Homo sapiens: one gene and its partners. The protein of the gene in region 1 purifies or fractionates together with the protein of each later gene. This does not show direct contact. Each region holds a gene or a part of one and is shown on either strand. Other genes may lie near its edges. The genes, in order: RBM28, KNOP1, MAK16 and ZC3HAV1.

Region 1 (7,025 bases):
ATTCAGCTACTAACACCCTGTGTGACATTAACCAATTCACTTACTGTCTTCCATCTCAAATTACTTACTTGGAAAGAAGGGGTGATAATATTTGCTTTACCTATTTTGAGGTGTTCTAAAGATAAAATGAGACAAGAATGCACAGCTGCTTTGGAAAGGTTTAATTTGATATCGACAGCTAAGGCGTTGGTAATAGTGGTCATAACATCTGCAGTCTCTCTGAGCAGTATTTATTGTTTGAGGTTCTTTTGTCTGGGCCTCAGGCATTTATTGCTGATCTATTTTGAGGAGTAACTGCATTATTGTGTTCTGATTTTTGAAGCTACCATACTGTCTTAATTCATTTTCTGTTGCTTATAAGAGAATACCTGAAACTAGGTACTTTGTAAAGAAAAATTTATTTCTTAAGTTCTGGAGGCTGAGAAGTCCAAAGTTTAGTGGCTGTATCTGGTGAGAGCCTTCTTGTTGGTGGGGACTCTGCAAAATGCCCAGACAGTGCAGGGTGTCATGGCGAGGGGGCTGAGCATGCTAATGTGCTTGCTCAGGTCTCTCTTCCTCTTCTTATAAAGCCCCCAGCTCCACTCTCATGATAGCCCATTAATCTATTAACCCATTAATCCATAAATTGATTAATCCATTCCTGAAGACAGAGTCCTCTGATCCAGTCACCTCTTAAAGACTCCACCTTTCAATACTGCTACATTGGGGATTAAGTTTCCAACACATGAAATTTGGGGGACACATTCAAACCATAGCATATACTTACCTTTCCTGCCTTCTTTGGTGATGTTTTGTTCTTTTTGATGTTGAGTTCTTTGAGGGCCTCATATGTCATGGATTCTCTGTTTTCTTGGGATTATCAAGAAAGGGGGAAGAAGGGGAGCTAACAGCAAAGACACTAAATTAAAAGAGGAGGAAGGCTAACAGTTTCTAAGCAAAGTGGGGAGGGAACCACTGATACCACCCTTGTTTCTCGCCCTCCTGAGACTTTTGGCAAACTGATAGCAAGATGGGTTGGCAGTATATCCTCTAGCTTAGGCTTTGAGGATTTACTCATTTAGTGCTCTTGGCTTATGATTCTCTCTCCTTTTCACACTGCCCCTCCACTCCCTCCCCACTCCATTATTCCAGGGAGTAAGGCATGTCGAGGCTTTGGCTATGTCACTTTTTCAATGCTGGAAGATGTTCAGAGGGCCCTCAAGGAGATTACCACCTTTGAAGGTTGCAAGATCAACGTGACTGTTGCCAAGAAAAAACTGAGGAACAAGACAAAGGAAAAGGGGAAAAATGGTGAGTTTCTAGTAATTGAAGGAAGTTTTTCTCCCAGGGTGAGGAGGAGCACTATGAAAATGAAAGAGGGAGGCATGGAGGTAGCTTCTAGAACTTAAAGCTTTTTGCATTTCTTTTTGATCTCCAAAATCATCCAGTGTATTGTGATACTCATTTTAGTTCTTTGGAAAAATCTGGTATTCCTTGGTATTATTGCCACACTTAACCCTGTGGTAAATGCCATCTGTCGCCAGTAGCTTTTTTTTCTGTGATGTTCTGGCGTAGAAGTGGGTGATTTTCGAGTACTTATTCCATTACCTCTTATTTTTTAGAAAACTCAGAGTGCCCAAAGAAGGAGCCGAAGGCTAAAAAAGCCAAAGTGGCAGATAAGAAAGCCAGATTAATTATTCGGAACCTGAGCTTTAAGGTAAGTGAGAGAGAAAATGAACATTGCATGTTTTGAAGGCTTTTAGAGCCAAGATGTGATCATTAGTAGAACTCCTCACCAAGATGGTATAATTGGGCTTAATTCCTTCTGGGAATCAACCTTACCCCTGTTGAATTCAGAAAGTGGGCCTGTGTAATAAGGGCACTAAGTGTGAAGCTGCTTTCCTTTTTGGGGAAACTACTACTGAGAAAGAAAAGGTAGAAAAAGTTCTCAGACGTCTGTGTTTTTGCCTCTTAGGTACAAAGTAAAATGTCTTCTATTTAGAAACATTTGATGTCCTAGTATCAAAAATAAAAAAAAGTAAACATTCATGTTTTTCATAATTAATGAATTTAGTAGTTGATGTTTTATGTTAATTTGCTGTGATTGTGTTTCTCTTTTTCTTTCTTCACTTTTGGCTTCAGTGTTCAGAAGATGACTTGAAGACAGTATTTGCTCAATTTGGAGCTGTCCTGGAAGTAAATATCCCTAGGAAACCAGGTACTAATAAACCTTCACTTGGTGTGGATTACGTTAGTTAACATATTACCCTTGAACAAACATATATGATATATATGAAGTATTTGGCACAGTGCTTCACATCTAATGAAAACCCAAATAATGGTTTTATTCCCCTGATGATATTTTCTGTTGGATCAGAATTAGTTTTAGAAGGCGAGTTAGTTTGAGAAAGTGTTTTGCTCTCCCCAAGTCCAAGTCAGAGTATACTCAGTAAGAAGATGTAAGCAATTGCTTTGGGGAAGGGCCTGACCTGCTGGCAGAATTTGGGCCATCTTGTGGGCCTGAATTGCAGTAATTTACTTCTTAGTATTCTGGCTACCTCCTGCTGCCTCTCACTTCTTTCTTTGTGCATTTGCACACAGATGGGAAGATGCGCGGTTTTGGTTTTGTTCAGTTCAAAAACCTCCTAGAAGCAGGTAAAGCTCTCAAAGGCATGAACATGAAAGAGATAAAAGGTAAGCTTTCTATACCCATATCATTGACCCAGATATTTCTGGTGTTTTGGTGAATTAGTGTAGTAACCCACTTTCTGCATTTTCAAAAGATGTTTGCATTATTAAGAGTCTCATTGCTAATACGGTAGCTATTTAGGTGAAATACTCTAGAACTTGATCTTGGGGTTAAACTTGAAAGAACCCTTGCCAGTATTCTTTCTTTTATCTGGTGAGAGTGTCCTTTTAAATCCCTAGTGAAAAATGTCCCTGAGATAATTGCTGATAGATGCAGGTTGGTATCTAGATTCCTCCTTGGTTATATCACTGTTCAGCATCTGTGGGCTATTTATTAAACTGACTGTGATTTATATATTGACTTATCAAGTACTGTGCCTAAAGAAGTTATTGCCGGCCAGGTGCGGTGGCTCACACCTGTAATCCTAGCACTTTGGGAGGCCGAGGAGGCAGGTGGATCACCTGAGGTCAGGAGTTCAAGACCAGCCTGGTCAACATGGCGAAACCCCGTCTCTACTGAAAATACAAAAATTAGCCAGGTGTGGTGGTGCATGCTTGTAATCCCAGCTACTCAAGAGGCTGAGGCAGGAGAATCGCTTGAACCTGGAGGCGGAGGTTGCAGTGAACTGAGATGGCACCACTGCACTCCAGCCTGGGCGACAGAGCGAGACTGTGTCTCAAAAAAAAAAAAAAGAAGTTATTGCCGTAGAGATGTCCTAGCTTCCAGGTAGGGTGCAGATGATTCCAGAATGCCTGTTTTGATTCCTGATAGTCTAACTGGAAACATAGTTCTAATTCTTTATTTTTTTACTCCATCTTATCCCAGGTGTGGTGGCTATGTAGAAAGGCAAAATTTCTGTTCATTGATAAAAAGGTTAAGGGTTAAAAGGAGTAGGCAGTGACTAGGAGCTTTATTTTAAGACCAGCATTCCCTGAATTGGCAGTTTCTTTGTCTCCACTGGTTCCATTATTGTCTGTGATGACTAGGGGTCATTTACAGAGGTAGGGTTTTTAAAAGGAGAGCCTTTCTGATGCCACTTTTCTGCTTGACAGGCCGGACAGTGGCTGTGGATTGGGCCGTGGCAAAGGATAAATATAAAGATACACAGTCTGTTTCTGCTATAGGTAAGATGTGGTAGTGTTGGGTGAGTAGGGGCGTTGTATAACCTGGGTGAGAGTATTGAAACAACTCCTGTGTTCATGATAAAAGTGTAAGAAAAAGGCTGGGTGCAGTGGCTCTTGCCTGTAATTCCAGCACTTTGGGTGGATTGCTTGCAGTCAGGAGTTTGAGACCAGCCTGGCCAACATGCAAAACCCCATCTCTACTAAAAATACAAAAATTAGCTGGGCTTGGTGGTGGGCGCCTGTCATCCCACCTGCTTGGGAGGCTGAGGCAGGTTCTTGAACCTGGGAGGCAGAGGTTGCAGTGAGCCGAGATCACCCCACTGCACTCCAGCCTGGGCAACAAAACGAGACTTCGTCTCAAAAAAAAAGTGTAAGAGAACCTGCTTATCAGAGTAAGACTATTGTGGAAGATTAACCAAAAGAATGAGACTGGGCTTTCAGGGAAAACTCTGAATTCCTGCTGGCTCAGAAGTGAGTCCAGGTCTGTTTGTCAATTCATATTGTACCATTTGGTGCTCTGGTCCCAAAACCTAGGCTCTTTTGAGTCTAAGCCCCTTCCTGGGAGTGGCTGTGAGTGAGCCTGAGTTCACTGTCCCCTTTACTTGCTGTTGTTTCCAGGCTGTGCATAATAGGAGTGATGGAACATTAAGAATAGAGAAACTTAAAACTTGAGGTTTATTTAGAAAACAATTGGCTGGTAAGCCACCAGGGTCTCAGAGAATAGAACGCACTGAGATTAAAGTTCATGGCTTGGCTTTGCCCCCTAGTGAGCATTTTGCTGGCTATGATGTACGAATGGTAGACTGCTTGGAGAGGCTCAGTTGCCACTTCTTTCAGTCTGGGCCAGATGAACCTTCAGACTGATGAATGGGACAAACTCTAAAGGAATCTGGGTGTTGAGAGTTTTGTTTATTTCTGTTTTTGCTTTTTCTTTTCTTTATACTTTCTCCTGTTATATGCAGTAAGAAAAATATACGAAATTCTGTAAAACCGATGAAACCAAGAACTTGGAGTATTGGTTACTTTTGTTAAAATAACATTGTTTTGGATATTAAATGAATTCCTCCTTTCTTTACCTCCCTCCATAGGTGAGGAAAAGAGCCATGAATCTAAACATCAGGAATCAGTTAAAAAGAAGGGCAGAGAGGAAGAGGATATGGAAGAGGAAGAAAACGATGATGATGACGATGATGATGATGAAGAAGATGGGGTTTTTGATGATGAAGATGAAGAGGAAGAGAATATAGAATCAAAGGTGACCAAGCCTGTGCAAATTCAGAAGAGGTAAGCAGCTCATCCTGTTCTGAGACAGCAGAGGAAGATTCAAGATTGTCTCCGAGAGGAAAAATTCTCCTTTTTCTGCCTGCATCATTGCAGAATTGACATGTGTAATGAAATTGAATAGGCCCTCTGTCAGCCCACCTCCTTAGTTCTGATCTGTGCCATTGCAGAGCAGTCAAGAGACCAGCCCCTGCAAAAAGCAGTGATCATTCTGAGGAGGACAGTGACCTAGAGGAAAGCGATAGTATTGATGATGGAGAGGAACTGGCTCAGAGTGATACCAGCACTGAGGAGCAAGAGGATAAAGGTTTGTTTGGATTTTCATAAATGTCTTTAGACTTTAAAAAAGTTACTGAAGTTACGGAAATGAGCATCAGTTCTGCTTAGATCTCTTTTTAAATAGGACTCTAAGGTGTTCTATCAAATTTATGTTTAAATGCTGAAAAGGAAACCTTTATACTCCTTTCTTCCAAAGGTTTTTTTGTTGTTTCCTTTTTGTTTGTTTTGTTTTTTAAGTGAGTTTTGGAGTGGTGTTTGAGGGTTAAGATTCTTAGGGAATTGAAAACCTAGCTTAATGCTGAGGTTCTACCTCTCTCTGGATTGTCCAACTTGATAGAATAACCAGGTAAACAGCATCTTATACAGATAATATAGATGAAACAGATGATATAACCATCTCAACATCAAGCTAGATTTTAAACAACTCCTTGGAGTTGAGATGGGGATAAAGAACTGTTTAGTCAGTTTGGACTGACATAACAAAATACCATAAACTGGGTGGCTTAAACAGCAGAAACTTATTTTCTCACAGCTCTAGAGGCTAGAAGTCCCAGGTGCCAGCTGATTCATTTTGGGTGCAGCTCTCTTCCTAGCTTGCAGACTGCTGCCTTCTCGCTATGTGCTTGCATGGCCTTTTCTTTGTGGCTTGACGAGGGGAGAGAGAGAACAAGTAACAGTGAACTCTGGTCTCTCTTTTCTTATAAGCACAGCAATCCTATCAGATTAGGGCCCAACCTTAAGACCTCATTTAGCTAGCCTCAGTTACCTCCCTAAAGTCTCTGTCTCCAAATACAATTATATTTGGGGTTAGGGCTTCAATGTATGAATTTTGGGGGAACACAGTGCGTTCCATAACAAGGACCTCTTTGAACATGTTGTAAAACTTTAGCCAATCCTTATTGCTACCTTTATTGAGAATAAATTCAACTTGTTTATTGAGGAAGGCAGGTCATTACAGAATGAGAAATGGCTAATAACTGGTTCTTTGATTTGTCTGGGTGGAGATTTTTATTTCAGCTGTTTTTATTCTGATTCCATTTCAGTAAGTCTGACATGTTGGTTTGACCATATAAGAAATCTGAGGAAATAAGCTTTTTCTGTGAGGAGAGAATGGTATACACCTTAGAATCAAAGAAGCTTCTACACTGAAGGGACTCTGAGATCCTGTATTCTACAACCCACAGTCAGCTGTCTCATGCCATTCTTTCACCTAAAAAACTTATAGGACAGATAAATGATAATGATAAAAAGTTAAAACACAACACAGAAGAGTGTAATACACAAAGTAGAAGTTTCTCACCAATCCTAACAATTCCCTGAAGTAATCACTGTTGTTTCTTGTGCATCCTTCCAGATATTTTCTTTGTATGTATAAGCTTATATGTCTGTTCTTGAAAACAAACAGTGAGTCTCCCTTATACCCAGATCCTCAGCTTCTTAGGGAACTTCCCCAGAGACAACCAAGGTTATTTGTTTCTTGTGTATCTATAGATATTTTAATACATTTATAAGCAAAATGCACACATATACACACACATATACACATTCAAAATGTAGTGTATTTTATAATTTGTGTGTGATTGTATGTGTATGTTTTTTCCTCAAAGTTTCCTATGTCCTATACAGTATTTCCAGAAAGTTTACACTGTCATAGTAGTATATGGAAATGTCTT
Region 2 (7,249 bases), on another chromosome or scaffold:
GAGGATATAGGGTCATGGTGGAGGTTTCTTCCTGATATGACAGGCCAGGGGTGTTTGGAGGAAAAAGCTAGTAGAGAAGTTAAAGGCGTAGCAGAGGAAGTGAGTGATAAAGCAGGATCCTGGAATAGCAAGGGGACGGTAAGCAAAGATGGAGAGCTGAGTGGCGAGTAGCGGGGTGAGAGCTTCTTCCACGTGTACAGATGGATGTTAGCAGACTCCCTCCCCACTCCTGACTGCCTGACTCTTCTCAGTGAACGCATCCTATGCTAAGAGGTATCACAGAACATTTCAGGAGGTGTTACAGACTTGGACTAGTAGAACCAGGCAATGGGAGAAGGCATTGAGAGATGCTGATTGCTGAGCAGTGCTGAGAGCCAGTTGGGGTCATCTTTCTTCAGCTGGCTCAGTGGCTGTGCTGGAGGAACAAGTATTGATTCACAACTGATCCATGTCGGTATCTGGCAGGTGAAATGAAAGGCCAGATTTTACAACAGCATTGAGGGCTGAGGCCAGAGAGTGCTTGATTAAGTGATGAACCAATGACAATAGTGAGGATGCTGATAACAGTAATCACAGCATATCAAAATAGGAAACTGTAAGGCCAGGCGCGGTGGCTCACGCCTGTAATCCCAGCACTTTGGGAGGATGAGGCGGGCTGACTGCTTGAGGTCAGGTGTTTGAGACCAGCTTGGCCAACATGGCAAAACCCCATCTCTACAAAAAATTAGCCAGGCATGGTGGTGGGTGCCTGTAATCCCAGCTATTTGGGAGGCTGAAGCAGGAGAATTGCTTGAATCTGGGAGGCAGAGGTTGCAGTGAGCCGAGATTGCGCCACTGCACTGCAGCCTGGGTGACAGAGCCAGACTTCATCTCAAAAAAAAAAAAAAAAGGAAACTGTTAAGCCCCACATCCTTTGATTGTCTTGATTAAAACCATGAACACAGCTAGTCACAAACTACTATAAGATTTGATTAGAAGTGTTGGCCGGGAAGAAGTTTATTGACACTAACACGAGTGCTTTTTAGAATACAAAACTCAGTTGTCACTGGAAAGATGAGGGAGAAAACTGAAGAATATTTACAAATAAGTTATAGTGGTGAGCATGCACATACATACAAAAGAGCACTAGTCAGGTTGGTTAAGGTCTGTGTAAGTTAGATATTGACCTACTTTGTATTTTGTCTTCATGAAATTGAGTTTCTGGCAGGTCTGTTTGCTATGATAATTTGTCTTTTGAATGGAGATTATCTTAAGAGAATGTAGTACTTAATCTCAAAGATAGGATTACTACAAAGCCTGTTTTTTCATGTTTGTTGTCAGAAACTGAATTTACTACATGTTATAGAAAACTGCATTTGTTAGATGTTTAAGAATTGGGTTTATCCATCTGTTATAATACTCATCACAGTGTCCATGTGTATAGTTTGCCAATGTTGACCTCACTGAATTGTTTTTTTTTTTTTTCTAGACGGATTCTTACTTTGTTGCCCAGGCTGGAGTGCAGTGGCACGATCTCAGGTCATTGCAACCTCCGCCTCTCAGGTTCAAGCGACTCTCCTGCCTCAGTCTCCTGAGTAGCTGGGATTACCCACCACCAAGCCTGACTTAGTTTTTATATTTTTAGTAGAGACAGGGTTTCAACATGTTGGCCAGGCTAGTCTCCAATTCCTGACCGCAGGTGATCCACCCGCCTTGGCCTCCCAAAGTGCTGGGATTACAGGTGTGAGCCACCATGCCTGACCTCATTCTGTAACTCTATCATTTTAAAAGTGGCATCAATTCACTTGCTCTTCAGAGAGAACCAAAACCCTTTGTCTTTGCTTTCTCTCTAGAGGCCTATTTGACCAAAATAAACTCGGTGTGTAAATCACAACACAAGGCATGTTTCTTTGTCAACAATAATGAACATTTATTGACTACTTTTTAAATGCCAGGCACTGTGCTAAGCACCTTTTCATACATTATCTTACTTGGTCCCCACAACAGCCCTGTGAGGTAGGCACAACAATTATCTGTCTCTTACAGATGAGGCTGAGTAACTTTTCTAACAATCCTCTAGTAAACTGTATTATAAGAAACTGTTTGGCTTGGAGAAGTGAAAGCTCTGGGGAAAAGGCAGCCACAATAACTACCGTCAAATTATCTGAGTAGATTCTTTGGGGTAGAGTGATTAGCTCCTTGGATCATAGCACCAAGAGGTAAGGACGTAGGGGTGAAAGTGACAAAGAGAACATGCAAAATGAAAGGGATTTTTCTAGCACAATGTAAGGTTGGAGAAGGAATTTAAGTACTGGATGGGGTTGAAACAGACAGCTTTGGAGGGCATCTATCAACTGAGTCTACTATTCTCTTCCTTCTCTGTATTCTCCACTTCTTTCGAGTCATCGCATATACTGGTACATTCATTCTTTTTTTCCATTCAATAAACATTTACTGACCTGCACTATCCAATACAGCAGCCACTATCCAAATGTGGCTATTTAAATTTATTAAAATTAAGTCTGGGCTGGGCCTGGTGGCTCAGGCCTGTAATTGTAGCACTTTGGGAGGCCGAGGCAGGTAGATCACCTGAGGTCAGGAGTTCAAGAGCAGCCTGGCCAAAATGGTGAAACCCCTTCTCTACAAAAATAAAAAAATTAGCCAGGAATGATGACGGGTGCCTGTAATCCCAGCTACTCAGGAGATTGAGGTGTGAGAATGCTTGAACCCGGGAGGCGGAGGTTGCAGTGAGCCCAGCCAGTGCCACTGCATTCCAGCCTGGGCGACAGAGCAACATGCCGTCTCAAAAAAAAAAAAAAAAAAAAAATTTGAGTCCAACAAGAAATTCAGTTACTCAATTGCACTAATCACATTTCAAATGCTAACTAACCACACTTTTTTTTTTTTGGGGATGGAGTCTCGCTCTGTCACCCAGGCTGGAGTGCAGTGGCGCAAACTCGGCTCACTGCAACGCCACCTCCCTGGTTCAAGCAATTCCCTTTCCTCAGCCTCCCAAGTAGCTGAGATTATAGGCGCACACCACCACGCCCAGATAATTTTTTTTTTGTATTTTCAGTAGAGACGGGGTTTCACCGCGCTGTTTCAGGCAGCTTAGGTAGTGATGGTGGCCACACGAATGAAAAATCTGAGTCCTTGACCTTGAGGAGCTTATGGTCTAGTGGAGGAAAAAGAAAACATCCCACCCAACATTATTCATTAAGAACTAGCGCTTACGTAGCTCCTTCTGTAAATCGAGCAGTTTGTGTTTTTTTTTCCCCAATAATCCTTTTGCCCTCCTAAAATCAGGCAGTTTGCTAAGCACTTTTTGTGACTATCTGGTTCCATCTTCTTAACACCATCGAAATAGGTGCCATTATTATGCCCACTTTGCAGACAGGGTCATAAGTTAAATAATTTGCCCAACCTAAGTAACAAATACTGAGTAGAGCCACAAAGGAAGATGTGCTCAACTCCGCCTGGGGAGGTTAAGGAAGGTTTGAAGCAAGAAGGGACTAAAACCCGTTTGTCCACACCATGGTTACTGAACGTGTGGGCCACCGACTACCTACGTTAGGATTACCTGGGGTGCTCTTTTAAAAAGTGCAGATTCCCTGCATCCCAATTTGAAGCTCTGTGGGCGGGGCCTGGGAACCTCCGTTTATAACAAGATCCCCACCCCGGCCCCCGCCCCAGCAATTCCTTTCGGTTCACTAACCGAGGTTTAAGAACCAATGGTCCACACCGCATGGTTCTCTTTATTCAGCTTTCCCTCGCCGTTCCCTTGCCTTTAACCTCACTACGGATCGCGATTGGAGTCCGCGCTGCGTAACCTCGGGCCAGCCTCTCCGAGCCTCAGTTTCCCCATGCGTAAAATGCGGAGCCCGGGCCCGCGGAGCCGCTGCCCGGCGGCCCCGCCCGTCAGCCGACAGGCGCACAGTGGGCGCTCCCCAAACGCGGCCCCCGTCCGGCCGCCCGGGTCCCGCCCCTCTCGGCCAGCCCAGGTTTCCTACCCTTGCAGATCTGCTCCCACAGATTCTTGCTTGACGGCTCGGTGACCTGCCACGACGAGACAGGCAGCTCGCGGGACGCGAGAGACACGGTGGGCACCGGCGTCCGGGTGAACGACGAGTCTGTAGAGCAGCTGGGCTTGAGGCGCACTATGTGGCTGGGGATTTGCCGCGGTGCCGCCATGGCCGCGGTTTCCACGGTAACCGCGTTCGCCGGAAGGCCGCGACCCGGAAGAAGCCGGAACCCGAGAGGGTGGGCCGGCGACTCGAAGTGGACTTCCGGGTCACGGCGGAGCTGGCTCTCACGTGGAGGCGGGGAAATTTCGCCCACCGGTGAGTGCCAGGGCGCGTTGCAGGCGGGCCGGCGCGGGGTGTGGAGATTGCACCAGAGGAAGTGCGCGGCGGGGAAGATGGGGAAATGCGGTCCACCCACATCCCTGAATCCGACCCCTCCAGTCGGTGTGCGCCCGCTCCGGCCTGAGGCCGCCGCCTCCAGAAAGTTTTCCCGCCTCAGAGCCGGCCCTGGGACCCCACGTAATCCCTCCCAGTCTGTTGATGCGGAGGCTTGGGCCCATGGGAGCCTTGGAGGTACGGATCTTACTTCCTGGCTCCCGCGCGTCCTGCTGGTGATCCTGCCGGGGGAGTGGGGTGTTGCTGCACAGGCTTTGGAGTCCTGTGGGCGGAATTCCAGTCTCCGTTTTCCACTTGCTGGCTTTGGAACCTAGGGCAAGTGAATTATTGTAGTCTCTGGAGCTTGCGAGGTCGGGTATTCACAAAGATCTTCACAAGGCTGTCCCTGGAATTTAAAAGCGGTTTTGGAGAAAGCGTTTGCGTTTGCAGGAGATGCACTGTAACGTTCTTTTCCTTTCTCCTTGAAAGAGTGAATGCATTTGGTCGCAGGGCTAAAGAGGAGGATGCTATACTTTTCTAAATGGCAAGAGATGGGGAGAGAAGGGGATTAAGAGTTGACCCGCAACCTCCCGGTGGATTCTTTGTTCTTACCAGATCTCTTGGCCACTCCCCTATTCTGAAGTCGTCTTGGCTCTCTTGACTGCTCCCCTATTCTGAAGTCGTCTTGGCTCTCTTGACTGCTCCCCTATTCTGAAGTCGTCTTGGCTCTCCTGACTACACTATTTCAAGGTTTGCACCTTCTTCTTTGCAAGCTCCTTTATCTCTGCCCACTTATTTAAATGCCAATACAATAGTCCCCCTCCCCCATTATCCGCGGGCAGTACGTTCCTAAACCCCCAGTGGATGCCTGAAACCACAGACAGTACCGAACCCTAAATATAACTGTTTTTTCTTGTGTATACTATCTATGAGAAAGTTTATAAATTAGGCACAGTAGGGCCGGGCGTGGTGGCTCATGCCTGTAATCCCAGCACTTTGGGAGGATGAGGCGGGCGGATCACCTGAGGCCAGTAGTTGGAGACCAGCCTGGCCAACATAGTAAAACCCCGTCCCTACTAAAAATACAAAAATTAGCCGGGCGTGGTGGTATGTGCCTGTAATCCCGGCTACTCGGGAGGCTGAGGCGTGAAAATTGCTTGAACCCGGGAGGTGGAGGTTGCAGTGAGCCGAGATGATGCCACTGCACTCCAGCCTGGGCAACAGAGCCAGACCTTGTCTCACAAAAAATTAGGTGCAGTAAACGATTACCAACAATCTAGCTAGTAATAAAATAGAACAATTACAACAGTATACTGTAATAAAAGTTGCATGCATGTGGTCTCCCTCTCAAGATAACTTCCTGTACTGTGCTCACCTATTTTGGGACCAGGGTTGACCAGGGGTAACGGAAACCTGGGATTAGGTGGCGAGCTACTGTATTTCTTGAAGTCTTGTCTCAGGCTTGTTCTGTTCAAGGCTTATCACCACCCATACATTCCTAACTTTATGTCGCCCGTGTCAGCACGGCCACCCAAACTCCTCATCCATATATATTCACCTGTCCAGTGAACATCTCCAAGTCATCTGTCCAATCAAGCCTGTTCTTCAGCCACTTGCCTTCAGTACCTTTGTCTCAGGGATTAATACCACCATCCTGCAGTTGTTCTTCAGAAATTTTCCTGACAACTGGTAGGACAGGTTCCACAACCTCCACCACCCTGACCTTAGCACTGTCCTTGCTTTTATCACCTGTATCATTGTATTACACCTTATTCCCTCCCACACCTACTTGCTTCTTGATGGGTGGTGTTTTATCTTGTTCATCTCTGTATCCCTAGCATGTGTGCATTCATTCAGTGAGTATGTATTGAGCACCTGCTATGTGCCAGGCACTGAGCAGGACACTGGAAATAAACCAGGAAACAGGGCAGACAGCAATGAATGAGTATAGTTATTCCCTTGACTCTCCAGGTGCGCCTGGAGTGGGTTATGAATGAACTTGACCTGTAGCTCAGGCCTGGCTCTTTGAAGCTGCTAAGAGAGAGCCAGCTCCAGTGTGGACCCTCTGAGTTCCGAAGCTGAGGAGGGCTGCAGGATGGAGAAGTTTTTCCTTTCCCTCCCATGATCCTAACTTGCTATGAAATATTTTGGGATATTTTGCTTCTAGATTCTGGGAATGTCTAGTGCAGGAACTTGGCTGGGGACTGGAGTGAGAGCAGTGGTCCAGCTGGACACTGATGGGTATTGAGGACCCCAGCCCATTCTCACAGGTGCTTCCACGATATCTGTCCAAGACAAGCTGGGTGCCCTCAGTACTGTGCATCATTGTGACTCATTCAGTGTTGGCAATCAACTTCAAATTTTAAAAACAGTGGAACTAGGCCAGGCAAGGTGGCTCATGCGTGTAATCCCAGCACTTTGGGAGGCTGAGGCGGGCGGATCACTTGAGGTCAGGAGTTTGAGACTAGCCTGGCCAACATGGAGAAACCCCGTCCCTCCTAAAAAAGAAAAAAAAAATTAGCTGGGCATGATCACGGGTGCCTGTTATCCCAGCTACTCAGGGGAGGCTGAGGCAGGAGAATCACTTGAACCCAGGAGACGGAGGTTGCAGTGGGCCGAGATCACGCCACTGCATTCCAGCTTGGGTGACAGAGCAAGACTCTGTCTCAAAAAAAAAAAAAAAAAAAGAGAAAAAGAAAAAGGGAATTAACAGTGTACCAAGCCCTTTCCATGGGTTATCTCATTTACTCCCTCCAACACCCTTTTGAGGAGGGAGGTGTTATATTCCCCCATTTTCCAGATGGAGAAATTGAGGCTCAGGGAGGTTAGCTGATTTACTTAAGGTGAGAGAGGCATTTAGGTTTGAACCTAGG
Region 3 (7,233 bases), on another chromosome or scaffold:
CCTGAAAGTTAATAAAGAAAAAAAAAGAAAGAAAAAACAAAATAAAGTGATGCTAGACCTCTGATAATGACTCCCATTTCTTCCAGCTAGTCATTACATTTACAGAGAGAGGTTCTTTTTTTTTTTTTTTTTTTTTTTTTTTTTTTTTTTTTTTTTTAATGAGATGGAGTCTCTGTTGCCCAGGCTGGAGTGCAGTGGCGCAATCTCGGCTCACTGCAAGCTCCGCCTCCTTGGTTCAGGCAATTCTCCTGCCTCAGCCTCCCAAGTAGCTGGGATTACAGGCGCCCAGCACCATGCCCAGCTATTTTTTTTTGTACTTTTACTAGAGACAGGGTTTCGCCATGTTGGCCAGGCTGCTCTCAAACTCCTGACCTCAGGTGGTCCACCTGCCTCAGCCTCCCAAAGTGCTGGGATTACAGGCGTGAGCCACAGTGCCTGACAAGATTTATAGAGAGAGGGTCTAAATTCATTCCTGCACATCTCTTCCTTTTGGGGAGCTCTGTGGTTCTGCTAAAACAACAACAAAAAACTATGTATTTTTCTTCTCCTTAAATGGTTTATTCCTCTGATTGTATACAAGCAAACACACATGCTTTACAGATGAGCAACTTTATTAGGTTTAATCCTCCAACAAGCTGCCTTCCACACTTCAGGGTTTCGTGTGTGTGTGTGTGTGTGTGTGTGTACACTTCATAGGAAACCTGACTCTGCCCAGGGTTAGCTCTGGGAAAAGTTGCTGTGGGAGTGGCTGAAGGTGGCAGAGGCCTGGAAGGTAAGACAACGGAGACCCTGTCTCTAAATAAATAAGTAAATAGAGACCTAACAACTAATTTATTGTGAATTTATTATGTACCAGGAACTGTACAGGAGATTGTGGATAAAGAAATGAAAAGACATCATCCTTAATCTTGAAAAGCTCAACGTTGGCCTGGCTTGGGCGCTCACACCTGTAATCCCAGCACTTTGGAAGGCCAAGGTGGGCGGATCACCTGAGGTCAAGAGTTTGAGACCAGCCTGACCAACATGGTGAAACCCTGTCTCTACTAAAAATGTAAATATTAGCTGGGCATAGTGGAACACGCCTGTAGTCCCAGCTGCTTGGGAAGCTGAGGCAAGAGAATCGCTTGAACCCAGCAGGTGGAGGTTGCAATGAGCTGAGATCGCACCACTACACTCCAGCCTGGGCAACAGAGTGAGACTCTGTCTCAAAAAAAAAAAAAAAAAAAAAAAGAAAAGAAAAAAAAAAAACAGAAAAGCTCAAGGCCTAAGAGATAATAAACCAATAACAATAATACAACACTAGTGAGGAATACATAGTGCACTGTGGTAACAGAGGAGAATGCGGGTATGTATAGAGAATGTTGAAATAGCATTACATTTTCTTATCTTTTCTTTTCTTTTTTTTTGAGACTGAGTTGCGCTCTGTCACCCAGGCTGGAGTGCAGTGGTGCGATCTCAGCTCACTGCAACCTCTGCCTTGTGGGTTCAGGCAATTCTCTGCCTCAGCCTCTCGAAGAGTTGGGATAACAGGCACCCACCACCACGCCCGGCTAATTTTTGTATTTTTAGTAGAGACAGGGTTTCACCATCTTGGCCAGGGTGGTTTCGATCTCCTGACCTGCTGATCCATCTGTCTTGGCCTCCCAAAGTGCTGGGATTACAGGTGTGAGCCACCGCACACGGCTAAATTTTCTTTCATTCTTCTTTTGAACTGGAGATTACTTTTTGTTTGTTTGTTTTTTTAATGAGACAGAGTCTCGCTCTGTCACCCACGCTGGAGTGCAGTGGCGGGATCTCGGCTCACCGCAAGCTCTGCCTCACTAAATACTACATAATATCATGATAAATGCTTTTAAACTTTATATCAAATTTCTCATGTGTTTCAGTTGCAGTCAAATCCAGGGTATCCCTAGGGTGACCCCAGTGAGTCCCACTCCCTGGTGTTCATGTCTTGTATCTTCTCCTCCCCTCCAGTGAGGGTGGCACCTGTGACTTGATCTAACCAATGGCATAAGGCAAAGTCTATGGAAAGTCACTGCCATAATTTTTTAAGATTATTTAAGATTATTTAAGATTAACATTATTTAAGATTCTGTTTTAGCAGACTGGAATTTAACTCGTTGCTGGCTTGATGAAGTAAGGAGCTATGTTGAGAAATCCCATGTGGCAAGAAGCCACAGGCAGCCTCTAGGACCTGTGGGTGGCCTCCCGGACACACGCCATCCTTACTGAGACTGTGTCCTTCTTACACTTTTGTTATTAAAATGGTCTTGTTACTGGAAAGTGGTCCCCAATCAGACCCAAGAGAGGGTTCTTGGATCTTAAGCAAGAAAGAATTTGAGGTGAGTCCATAAGTTTCGTAAAGTGAAAGCAAGCTTATTAAGAAAGTAAAGGAATGAAAGAATGGCTACTGCATAGGCAGAGCGGCACCGAGGGCTGCTGGTTGCCCATTTTTATCGCTATTTGTTCATGTATTTTTTGAGACTGATTCTTGCTCTGTTGCCCAGGCTGAAGTGCAGCGGCTTGATCTCAGCTCACTGTAATCTCTGCCTCCCAGATTCAAGTGATTCTCCTGCCTCAGCCTCCCAAGTAGCGGGGACTACAGGTGCCCACCACCACGCCTGGTTAAGTTTTGTATTTTTAGTAGAGATGGGGTTTCACCACGTTGGCCCGTCTGGTCTTGAACTTCTGACCTCGGGTGATCCACCTGCCTCGGCCTCCCAAAATGCTGATTACAGGCGTGAGCCACCAAGCCCAGCCTATTTATTGATTATATGCTAAACACGGAGCGGATTACTTACGCCTCTCCTTTTTAGACCATATAGAGTAATTTCCTGATGTTGCCATGGCATTTGTGGCGCCAGTGGGAGTGTAGCAGTGAGGACGACCAGAGGTCAAACTCATTGCCATCTTGGTTTTGTGGGTCTTGACTGGCTTCTTTACTGCAATCTGTTTTATCAGCAACATCCTTATGACCTGTATTTTGTGCTGACCTCATCCTGTGATTTAGATGGCCTGACCCTCGGGAATGCAGCCTAGCAGATCTCAGCCTTATTTTACCCAGCCACTATTCAAGATGGGGTTGCTCTGGTTCAAATGCCTCTTGACAGTCTTTCTTTCCTTTTCTTTTTTCTTTTTCTTTTTTTTTTTTTGAGAGGTAGTTTTGGTTGTCACCCAGGCTGGAGGGCCACAGCATGATCTCGGCTCACTGCAACCTCCGCCTCCCGGGTTCAAGCGATTCTCCTGCCTCAGCCTCCCAAGTAGCTGGGATTACAGGCACCTGCTACCACGCCCGACTAATTTTTGTATTTTTAGTAGAGACGGGATTTCACTATGTTGGCCAGGCTGGTCTGGAACTCGCCCGCCTAGGCCGCCCAAAGTGCTGAGGTACAGGCGAGAGCCACCGCGCCCGGCCCGGCCGACAGTCTTTCTTCTATAATACGATACAAACTAGTAAAGATTTTCTTTTTCCCCTGGCGGAAAAGAGCTGTTAGGCTTCCAGATTTGTTTTTGTGGGTTATTAGACCTCTACTTTTCTTCTTGGTATTTTCCCTCCCTTATCAACTTTGTTTGTTGTCTCAAATAGGCAATGAGGAAGACACAGGTGTTTATTATTATTGGAATGCTCTTTCCATTTGGTCAGTGGTTTCTCAAAGCAGGAGGAATTCAAGTTCTGAGTTTCTAAAGTCAGGACCCGGTGCCGCACCCAACGTGGGCGTGGGGAGTGGCTAAGTCAGGGTCTGAGGGGCAGGGCCGGGGCCTGGCTGCGAGCTGGGGCCGGGGGACTCGGAGGAGCGGGGACCCAGCCCCGCCGCGCCGCCTGCAGCTTTCCCCAGCCTCCTCCCAGCAGAGGGGAGGCCCGACAGGGAGGGGTCCCATCCTCATGAACGGTCACAAACAGGGCGCTAGGGAAGCACGCCCGACCCCCGCGGTCCCCGCGCTCCAGGATTCGGCAGACTGCGCGCGTCCTGCCTCCCGCGGATCGCACTGGGTCCCAACAGGGTTCCCAGCTCCAGGCTGCGCCCATGAACAAGCCCAGCATTGCGGACGGGCGCGCGCAGACGCCAGCGTGGTGAAGACGCGGGGGCGCGCGCGCGGCGACGAGACTGCCAGGGGACGCTTCGCAACACCGAGAGTCTCAGCGTTTCTCGAGATAGGTGAGGCTGCGCGTTCCGGAACTGGTTTCCCGGAAGGAGCATGTCTGCGCCCGCGATCCGACCGGAAGTTGCACGCTGAGCCGCGGACACCATGCAGTCGGATGATGTGAGTCTCCTCCGGTTGTTCTTACACCCGGGGTTTGCGCAGGGAATTTTGCCCATTTTCGGACACTTAGAAAACGCGTACGCAGCGGGTCTGTTGCCTCGTGCCGCTCTGGATGTGAGGCTTCCGGAACCCCGATTTTCCAACATAGGTTCTCACGCGTGTCTAGCAGGGGTTTACTGCCCGCTGCCCCGGCCGGGTTGTGAGCACAGGACTCCGTCACCTCAGCCCATGGGGTCGATGTGTCCCGTCCTTCGTGCCTACCAATGCAGGACGTCGCGTCATGCTGTCAGCTGTCAGCTGTCAGCTCCGGACTTGGGGTGGGGGGCGGCCCGGGATTTGGCGAAGCTGACTCCAAGTTTAAGCGTCCTTCTCATCCATGTGCGCGTTACTCTTCCATCTGCGTTTCCTGTGTAGGCTTTTCTTTACATTTGCTCTACTTCTGCCTAAGTCATAATTTCGGAAGTATCCTAGATTCATTCATTGAGTTTTTTGTTGGAGAAATAACAGTGTGCTTACAGTGTGCCAGGCATTGTGGTAATTATTGAGGATTTGGTTAACCAGAAAAAATGTCCCACCTCTCCTGGAACACTGATGGGGGAGACACAGTAAACAAGTGAACAAATAAGTTAACAATTACACTATATAATCATACTATGAAAGAAAGACCAGAGATGATGAAGGACACTTCAGATAGGGTTACTCAGGGAAGGTTTCTCTGAACAGAAGATGTTTGAGTTGAGATCTAAAAGATAAGAATAAGCCAGTCACTGAGGAGCTGAGGAAAAAGCAATCCAGGCAGTAGGAACAGTAAAGTACAAAGAGTTGAAGATATGAGAGAATGAATATAAGGGTCATCAAAGTGACAATGTAAGACAGGTAATGAAATTAGATATGCTTGCCAGGGCGAGGTCATGCAGAATCTTGTAGGAAGTGTTTTTTAGGCCTTTTAATGATCTATGTTTGTGAAAAGTTGTCTAGTTGCTGTGTGAAGGACTTTTGGAGGGAAAAAATGAAAGCAAGGAGACTAGGGTATGACAAAGGTTGCTTCAAGCCAGACACAGTGGCTCATGCCTGTAATCCCAACGCTTTGGGAGGCTGGGGCTGGAGGATCGCTTGAGGCCAGGAGTTCGATTCCAGCCTAGGCAATAAAGTGAGACTCCATCTCTACAAAAAATAAAAAATTAGCTGGGCGCGGTGGTGTTCGCCTGAGGTCCCAGTTACTTCGAAGGCTGAGGCAGAAGGACTACTTGAGCCGAAAAGTCCGAGGCTGCAGTGAGCTATGATGGCACCACTGCACTCCAGCCTGGGTGACAGAGAGACCCTATCTCTAAAGTAAATAAATTTTTTTAAAAACGAAAGTGGCTTCGCCTAAGGTAGTAATTTAATGGTGGAGATGAAAAGAAATTGATGAATTTGAGACCTTTTACGTCAGTATAATTGACAAGACTTTGGTGATGGATTAAGTGAAGAAGAAAAGGAAGAAATCAAAGGATTTGGGATATAAATACATAGTTAAATGGTGATTTTATTTATTGAAGTGGGGGAACTCTAGGGAAGACTGTTCTTACGAGGGATGTGGAATTGAGAACTCCTTGTGGATATGTTAATATTTATGTTGCCTTTTAGATATTGAAGAGATGTCATATAAAAATCTGGTGCTCAGGAAAGAAGTCTGACCAGAAAATAACAATTTAGGAGTCATCCATTTAGAGATGATACTTAAAGCCACAAGCCTAAAAGAGCTCCCTTATTCTTCTTACCTGTTTCCTACCATCCCCCACCAGACACACCTATAAAATTCTTAAAGTGTGTTTTATTCTTTTGCCCTCTTCATATTTTTCCTTTAACAGTGGTAAAGCTTTTTTTTACCCCAGTTCCTCAAGGCAGCGCACTCAAAGGCTGTCATACTCTTACGCATGCTATGTGGCCTTTAGACCTGCTATTTTGTGATACTTTGTTTACATATCTTTCCCCTAACTAGATAGACGAAACTCTTTAAAGAGTATACTTTCTTTCATTCAGCAAATACTTAAGTGGCTACTGTGTGTCAGGACTTGGAGATGTCAGTGCCTTACATAAATTAAGTATATAATGCTGAATGAATAAAGAGCACATTAAGTACAGGAGGATAGCAGTAGATAGTTTTCTTTGCCCTCAATGAGATAAAATTATGGTATGTATATCTAAAAATCTAATACCATGAAGCCTTTTTTTTTTTTTTGGAGATGGATTCTCACTCTGTCGCCCAGGCTGGAGTGCAGTGGCGTGATCTCGGCTTACCGCAACTTCTGCCTCCTGGGTTCAAGCGATTCTCCTGCCTCAGCCTCTCAAGTAGCTGGGATTACAGGCACCTGCCACCACACCTGGCTAATTTTTCTATTAGTAGAGATGGGGTTTCACCATGTTGGCCAGGCTGGCCTCAAACTCCCAACCTCAAGTGATCCGCCTGCCTTGGCACTCAAAGTGCTGGGATTACAGGTGTGAGCCACTACACCCGGCCCATGAGAGCCTTTAATAATGGATAATGAACATAAGTAAAAAGGGAAAGTTACGAAGTATATAAAATGTGATTTCACAGAGTATGTCAAAAAAAGTCTGGAAAAATATTTACAGAATAGTAATGAAATTTTATCTCTGGGTAATGGAGTTATGATTATTGCTCATCTGTATTTAGCTTTTCTATAAGAATCTGCTGGGCTTTTTTGTTTTGTTTTGTTTTGTTTTGAGACGGAGTTTCACTCTTGTTGTCCAGGCTGGAGCGCAATGGCACAATCTCGGCTCACCGCAACCTCCCTCTCCTGGGTTCAAGCGATTCTCCTGCCCCAGCCTCCCGAGTAGCTAGGATTACAGGCATGCGCCACCATGCCCAGCTAATTTTGTATTTTTAATATAAACAGGGTTTCTCCATGTTAATCAGGCTGGTCTCAAACTCCTCACCTCAGGTGATCCGCCCAACTCAGCCTCCCAAAG
Region 4 (7,025 bases), about 11 Mb from region 1:
CCCATCAGTTTCTTACAGGTCTATCCTATGTTAGAATTCAAACAAATATTTATCCTAAAAAATGAAATGTTAGGCTAGGCACTGTGGCTCATTCCTGTAATCCCAGCACTTTGGGAGGCCGAGGTGAGTGAATCACCTGAGGTCAGGAGTTTGAGACCAGCCTGACCAACATGGTGAAACCCCCCCATCTCTAATAAAAATACAAAGTTAGCTGGGCGTGGTGGCACATGCCTGTAGTCCTAGCTACTCGAGAGGCTGAGGCATGAGAGTTGATTGATCACAAGAAGGGGAGGCTGCAGTGAGCTGAGATCCTGCCACTGCACTCCAGCCTCAGTGACAGAGGAAAACTCTGTCTCAAAAAAGAAAAAAATAAAGCACTCAGAAATGTAGGAATAGAAATGAACTTTCTTAACACAATAAAGGGAATTTTAAAAAAAGAAAATATAGATTCCAGATTATATAAGTGTGATATAAAAAAACTGATGCAACAAAAACAAAAATGGACAAATGAGATAGCATCAAACTAAAAAGCTTCTCCACAGTAAAGGAAACAATTAACAAAGTGAACAGACAAACCCACAGAGTGGGAGAAAATATTTGCAAGCCATACATCTGATATGGGATTAATATCCAAAATATGTAAGGAACTTAAACAATTCAACAGCAAGAGAACAAATAACTCAATTTTAAAATGTGCAAGCTGTTCCCATAAGTGGCCTGCGGTGATCTGTGAAAATGGTTCACTATTCACTTGACCCAGAAAACTCCATGAAATCATGCAAATAAAGAGGTTCAAATCTTCATGTTCACTCTAAGGACACCCATGAAACTGCCCAGGCCATCAAGAGTACGCCTATATGAAAAGCCAGCAAATGTCTGAAAGATGTCACTGTATGGAAACAATGTGTACCATTCCAACGTTACGAGGGTGGAGTTGGTAGGAGTGCCCAGACCAAACAGTGGGGCTGGGCACGCAGTTTGTGACCCCAAAAGAATTGAATTCTTGCTGTACACACTTAAAAATGCAGAGAGTAATGCTGAACGTAAGGGTTGAGCTGTAGATTCTCTGGTCGTCGAGGATATTCAGGCGCACAAAGCACCCAAGATGTGCCACCAGACTTCCAGAGCTCATGGTTGGATTAACTCATGCCTAAGCTCCCCCTGCCACATAGAGACAATCTTCCTGAAGAAGCACACCGTGTTCCTAAACCAGAAGAGGAGGTGCACAGAAGAAAAAGCTATCCTAGAAGATACTGAAGAAGCAAAAACTTACAGCACGGGAATAAATTCAGCGTAAAATACATGCAAATAAAAGTTTCAAAAATGGGCAAAAGACTTGAATAGACATTTCTCAAAAGAAGAAATACAAATGGCCAATGAGTTCATGAAAAAATGCTCAACATCGCTAATCATCAAGCAAACGCAAATTAAAACCACAATGAGCTGTTGCCTCGCACCGATTAGAATGGGAGGCTGAGGTGGGAAGATTGCTTGAGCCCAGGATATCAAGGCTGCAGTGAGCCAAGATTGCACCACTGCACCCCAGCCTGGGTGACAGAGACCCTGTCTCAAAAACAGCAGCAACAACAACAACAACGAAAAAAAAAAAAAAAAAAGGAGAGAGAGAGAGTTGGATGTACTGACATAGCAAGATTTCTAGGACTAAAGTGGAAAAAAAAGTTGTAGAACAGTTCATATATTATGATCCTATTTATGAACAAGTAAACCACCATAAACCACCATATGCACATATATGTATGTGAATGCATAGAAACAGGTGTGAAAGAATTCCCGCCAGCCATAAACTGTTTTGGGAAGGGGAGTGGGATTGGACGTCGTAGGTCAGTATAGGTAGACTTCCATATTTTACTTTAAATATAGTAGAACATCATTTGCACAGAATATCTAGTATCTGACCTATTCAGGATAAGCAATGTTTCTGGAATTCAAACATCTAACTATAAAATGATAAAAAGAACAAAAACAAAGTAGATGGGAAGTATATTAAACATTTGTTACCACAAGTAAAACAATTCATTTTACTTATTGATTCTTGCATGGAAATAGGAGTTGCAATATCTACTCATGGTCTTTAAAACGACAGAGTAGCTTTCTTAGAAAATATTATTAGTATTTTTTGATACAGAATCTCACTCTGTTGCCCAGGCTGGAGTGCAGTGGTATGATCCTAGCTTACTGCAGCCTCAACTTCCTGGGCTCAATCAATCCTGCCTCAGCTTCCTGAGTAGCTGAGATTACAAGTGCACGCCACCATGCCCGGCTAATTTTTAAATTTTTTGTAGAGATGGAGTCTCCCCATGTTGCCCAGGCTGGTCTCAAATTCCTGGGCTCATGTGATCCACCCGCCTCAACCTCCCATAATGCTGGGATTACAGACATGAGCCACTGCACCTGCCCAGAGTAGCACTTGACAATGATAAAAATAAAAATTTTAACTTGGCAGGAAATTGTTGGTCTGCTGTGTATGGAAGCAGCAATCGTTATCTGAGGTTGTTTTAGAGTTGAGGACGAAGCATCAACTGACTCATCAGTTCCAAGTTTGCTCATTCAGCTCACACTGGGTGAATTGCATGAATTGGGCCACTGTGACATTGTCATTTGGTCATTGCACCCAATGGCTCACACTATCAGCATGAGCTCTGCACTGTAGCAAATATTCCTCAGTCATTTCTATAGGGTTATATACTGTATTTAAGTTCGCCTGCATCATTAACATGTTTTTAAGTGCAAAGGAAAGTTTATAAATATCAGTAAGGTATTATTGACATATGCTTAGTCCACACCCATCTGACTGTATATAACAAATCTTATAAACTGTATACCTTCTTTTATAATATTTCTTAACTTTTCTTTCTGATTCTTTCTAGGAATTTACTTTGCAAAAGATGCCATCTATTCCCACAAAAATTGCCCGTATGATGCCAAAAACGTCGTTATGTTTGTAGCCCAAGTTCTGGTTGGAAAGTTTACTGAAGGAAATATAACGTACACGAGCCCTCCTCCACAGTTCGACAGCTGTGTGGATACCAGATCGAATCCCTCCGTTTTTGTCATCTTTCAGAAAGATCAGGTTTACCCACAATATGTGATTGAATATACTGAAGACAAAGCCTGCGTGATTAGTTAGAACCGATGAATACAGCGTCAGAAGGATGCCATAACCATTCTGTTCCTTTACAGAACTAAATTGCCGCAGACAGGAGTTAAAGTTTTATATTTTCCTGCTCAGTTATCTAATGTCTTAGATCAGTGGTCCCCAAATTTTGCTACATATTAGAATCATCTGGGAGGTTTTAAACAAATTCTGATGCCCAGGTTGCACCCCATGCCAATGAAATCATTTCTGGGCGTCAGCGCCAGGCAGTTGTATTTTTTTTTTTTTTTTTTTTTTTGAGACTGAATCTCACTCCATCGTCCAGGCTGGAGTGCAGTGGCGCGATCTCGGCTCACTGCAACCTCTGCCTCCCGGGTTCAAGCAATTCTCCTGCCTCAGCCTCCCGAGTAGCTGGAACTACAGGCACACACTGCCGCGCCCAGCTAATTTTTTGTATTTTTTAGTAGAGACAGGGTTTCACTGTGTTGCCCAGGCTGGTCTCAAACTCCTGAGCTCAGGCAATCTGCCCGCCTTGGCCTCCCAAAGTGCTAGGATTACAGGTATGAGCCACCATGCCCGGCTGGCAGTTGTATTTTTTAAAGCCCTTCTGATGATTCCAATGTGTTGGAAAGTTTACCTTGTCTCAGATGTAACTGGTAAAGGCTGATTTCTAAATTTTCTGTAATTGCAGCAACCTTTCTCTCCTGTCTACCCTTTTAGTTTACTGTATGCCATGGTTTTGTTTTGGTTACATTGAAAGAAAGTTAATTTGGAAAATTTGGGAGAAATCTAATCATGCCTATTAAGGATGTAAGACATTACAGCCTTAGAAGAAAGATTGTGAAAAGCTGGGGAGAAAATGCTTAAGGACATGCTAGGGGAAAAAAAAGTAAAATTGAAGTGCTATTGCAGACATGGCTGCAGTACTGTACCTTATCATTCTGATGAAACTGATTTGGAGCACCCTTTTCTTTATCGCTACATTTATTTAGGGGACAAACTCCATCCAGGTTGACTCTCTCTGGAATGCGGTAATAAGAGCTGGCAAGTAAGGCTCAGAGAGAAGCAACCAACTGGAGTTAATTGCCCATTTGGGCTCTTTGTATAATTATGGCAAAGTAGACATTTATGTTCTAATTAATATGATTACAGAGAAGGCTTTTTCTCAGGTCAGGCTTTTCATGAAAGTATTTTGAGAACAATGAATTGCAATAACCAGCTTCACACAAGCATAACTGATAAACGCGAGTGCTATTGTAGTCTTGGCAAGTGAGCCAAGAACCTAGGAGCAGGGCCATTCCTACTGAAGGACGGGCCCCCTACGGAGATGAAATTTGTTTCCTGGTGAGCACAGAATCAGAACAAAGAACAATATCCCAAAGAGGCCCTGTGTCTACCAGGAGCTTCTTTTTCCAAATGTAATGGATTATGTGGAATTGTAGTGCCATCGGTTTTTACTTAGAGCCCTTGACGTGCTTGGACCAATATTTCCTTCCTTCTTATGAACCAGGTTTTTCCTTCTGATTTTCCCTTTTCAACATTCCTTACCAGTCACCAAAGTTTCCTGTTATAATTTCTTTTAGCAGACAAGTTATAAGTCAGATTTAATTAGCATCAGAGTTGATTTTATATTAGTCAGATTTTGGATCATCACAGAGATCTCCACAACTCCTTGGCTTAAACAGCTCCACCGGTAAAAAAAAAAAAAAAAAAAAAAAAAAAAAATAGTTTTTTTAGAGTAGAGTTATTTTCTGGGAGAGTTACTACAAATGCTTATTCTCATTGACTTATTTCTTTCATGGTAACTTTCGTTTTGGAGTGTTCATTTTCTGAACTTGACCCTCACATTGTAGGGGTGCAGTTTGTCCAACTCTTTCCAACAGCCCATTAGACACCACTAGCTGGATATTTCACAGGCATCTTTGATTCAATATGTCCAAAGTGGAACTCTCCATCTACCTCCCTCACATGAACCTGTTCCTCTCTCAGGATCTGTATGTAAGTGAAAAGCATCACCATCTACCCATTGGCTCAAGCAGAAATCTGGAAGTCATCTTTGACTCCTTCCTCTCCCTCCTGATAAACATCTAAGCAGTTTCTAAGTCTAGTTTTACCTCTTAAATATCTCTGTTCCCTTCTAAGTTGTTTGCTGTGTTTTCTTCAGAGCAAGAAGGTTATATTTTTTAAAATTTACTTAGTAATGCACATTCAAAACACACATCAAGTCTTCAGGATAAAGTTCAAAACCGCTGTCATGGCCCCATGTGATCTCTCCCTCCCCTACCCCTCTATCATTTAGTTTCTTCTGCGCAAGCCACTCTGGCTTCCTTTCAGTTTTGTGGTTCCCATTTTTAGCTAGTTCAGTGGTTTTCAATGGGCATTTCTGCCTTTTTTTTTCTAAACGACAAATAGAAATACATCTTCTTTATTATCCTCCAAATCCAATTCAGAGGTAATATGCTCCACCTACACACAATTTTAGAAATAAATTAAAAATTAAATAAAACTAATATGAACATAAAGAGGAAATAAAAGGTACCTAACTTGGGCACAGCTGTAACTGAAGACCTAATGAAGTAGTCAGATGCTTACAACTATTTATAATGCATCAATTTGAACTTAGAAGGTAGGAGATCAGATCATATGTGGGAAAATGTAAAAGCAGGGATATCAGTGGGCATTAGAATAAAAACTAGGGATACAATAACTTCTTTGCATATGACAATACTTATTTGTATATAAGAGAAAGAACGAAATAACCTTTATTGAAATAAAGATACTATGCAAGAAAATGTACAGTTGTCGAAGTGGAGAAAATGAGGATATATTCTTGCAGACGAGCTATAGGTCATACATGAATGTCTAGTGAGACATTCAAAATTCGTATAGGGTGCAGAGTAATTTCTTATTGTGAGGAACTGTCCAATGTATTGCAAGATGTTCTGCATACTTGGCTCTCACATACTAAATGCTAGTAGCGCCCCCACCCCCACGCCCAGTCACGGTGACAACCACAAACCCTATCAGATCTATTCACCTTTTTCAGAGCAGATATTTTGTAACATTCTCTTTGCTGACCTGAAATGACTCATAGATAATACAATCTACTTACACACATGAATTTCTTAAAAAAATCAATTTAATGCCCTAACTCTCTTATTAAGGAGAAATAGAAAAGAAGAAATTTATAATGAAAAGAAGATGAATTTCATTATGTAAACGCTCAGGCATGACTACGCTGTTTGAAACAGACAGATGTTTACTCTTCCTTGTAATGAGTAGGTTTGGATTTAAGAGCCGATTAGAGGCTACTTCCTGTAAACAAGTACAGGAAAATGAAACTAGACGGGTGGGGGACACTAGAATGAAAACCAGTGTTAGGGTAAAGACAAAACAGACTATGTACATAATCTGTATATGGGAAAAGAAAGAGCGAAATTACCTTACTTAAGGATAATAGGACAAGACAAATTACAGATTGTCTCAGAGAAAACAAATGAGTTACTCTCTCGGACAAGCTGTAGGTCCTACCTAAATGTCCAGCAGGACATTAGACAGTCGTACAGGGTACAGAATAATTCTTCGTTGTGTGGCACTAACCCACACACTGCAGGACATCGTTCTCCCTGGCTGCATCCACTCAGTGCTGGGAGTAGTCCCCAGTTATTATGAAACCACCAATAACCCACTGACCACAGTGAGAACCACTGATTTTTTCCACTGACCTACTGAATATCTAGCATCCTTAGATTGGCTCAACTGTTACTTTCCTAAGGAGTCCTTCTACAGAATAGGTCAGATCTTGGCCTCCCAAACCCCTTATTTTTAAAATACTTTGCGCCTTGCTTTGATAATTTGTATTATGTATCCAAACTGAAATTATCTGCTTTCTGCATTAGAATGTAAGCCC

Evidence for each region.
Region 2: the proteins of RBM28 (region 1) and KNOP1 purify together in Homo sapiens (affinity purification with mass spectrometry; 2 studies listed by BioGRID and IntAct, with this or other methods). This does not show direct contact.
Region 3: the proteins of RBM28 (region 1) and MAK16 purify together in Homo sapiens (affinity purification with mass spectrometry; 2 studies listed by BioGRID and IntAct, with this or other methods). This does not show direct contact.
Region 4: the proteins of RBM28 (region 1) and ZC3HAV1 purify together in Homo sapiens (affinity purification with mass spectrometry; 2 studies listed by BioGRID and IntAct, with this or other methods). This does not show direct contact.

The regions. Positions count from the first base shown.
Region 1 is NC_000007.14:128,333,898-128,340,922, reverse strand, and holds part of RBM28 (RNA-binding protein 28), read left to right. Parts: intron 1-1,131; coding exon 1,132-1,290; intron 1,291-1,601; coding exon 1,602-1,696; intron 1,697-2,121; coding exon 2,122-2,197; intron 2,198-2,580; coding exon 2,581-2,673; intron 2,674-3,720; coding exon 3,721-3,792; intron 3,793-4,880; coding exon 4,881-5,076; intron 5,077-5,243; coding exon 5,244-5,380; intron 5,381-7,025. UniProt on the Homo sapiens protein: Nucleolar component of the spliceosomal ribonucleoprotein complexes.
Region 2 is NC_000016.10:19,715,228-19,722,476, reverse strand, and holds the start of KNOP1 (lysine-rich nucleolar protein 1), read left to right. Parts: upstream 1-4,249; 5' UTR 4,250-4,319; exon of another isoform or gene 4,320-4,396; coding exon of another isoform or gene 4,397-4,574; exon of another isoform or gene 4,575-5,126; intron 5,127-7,249. Other genes in the region: IQCK (IQ domain-containing protein K), read right to left, coding at 3,990-4,170.
Region 3 is NC_000008.11:33,480,959-33,488,191, forward strand, and holds the start of MAK16 (protein MAK16 homolog), read left to right. Parts: upstream 1-4,223; 5' UTR 4,224-4,248; coding exon 4,249-4,263; intron 4,264-7,233.
Region 4 is NC_000007.14:139,043,717-139,050,741, reverse strand, and holds part of ZC3HAV1 (zinc finger CCCH-type antiviral protein 1), read left to right. Parts: intron 1-2,888; coding exon 2,889-3,148; 3' UTR 3,149-7,025.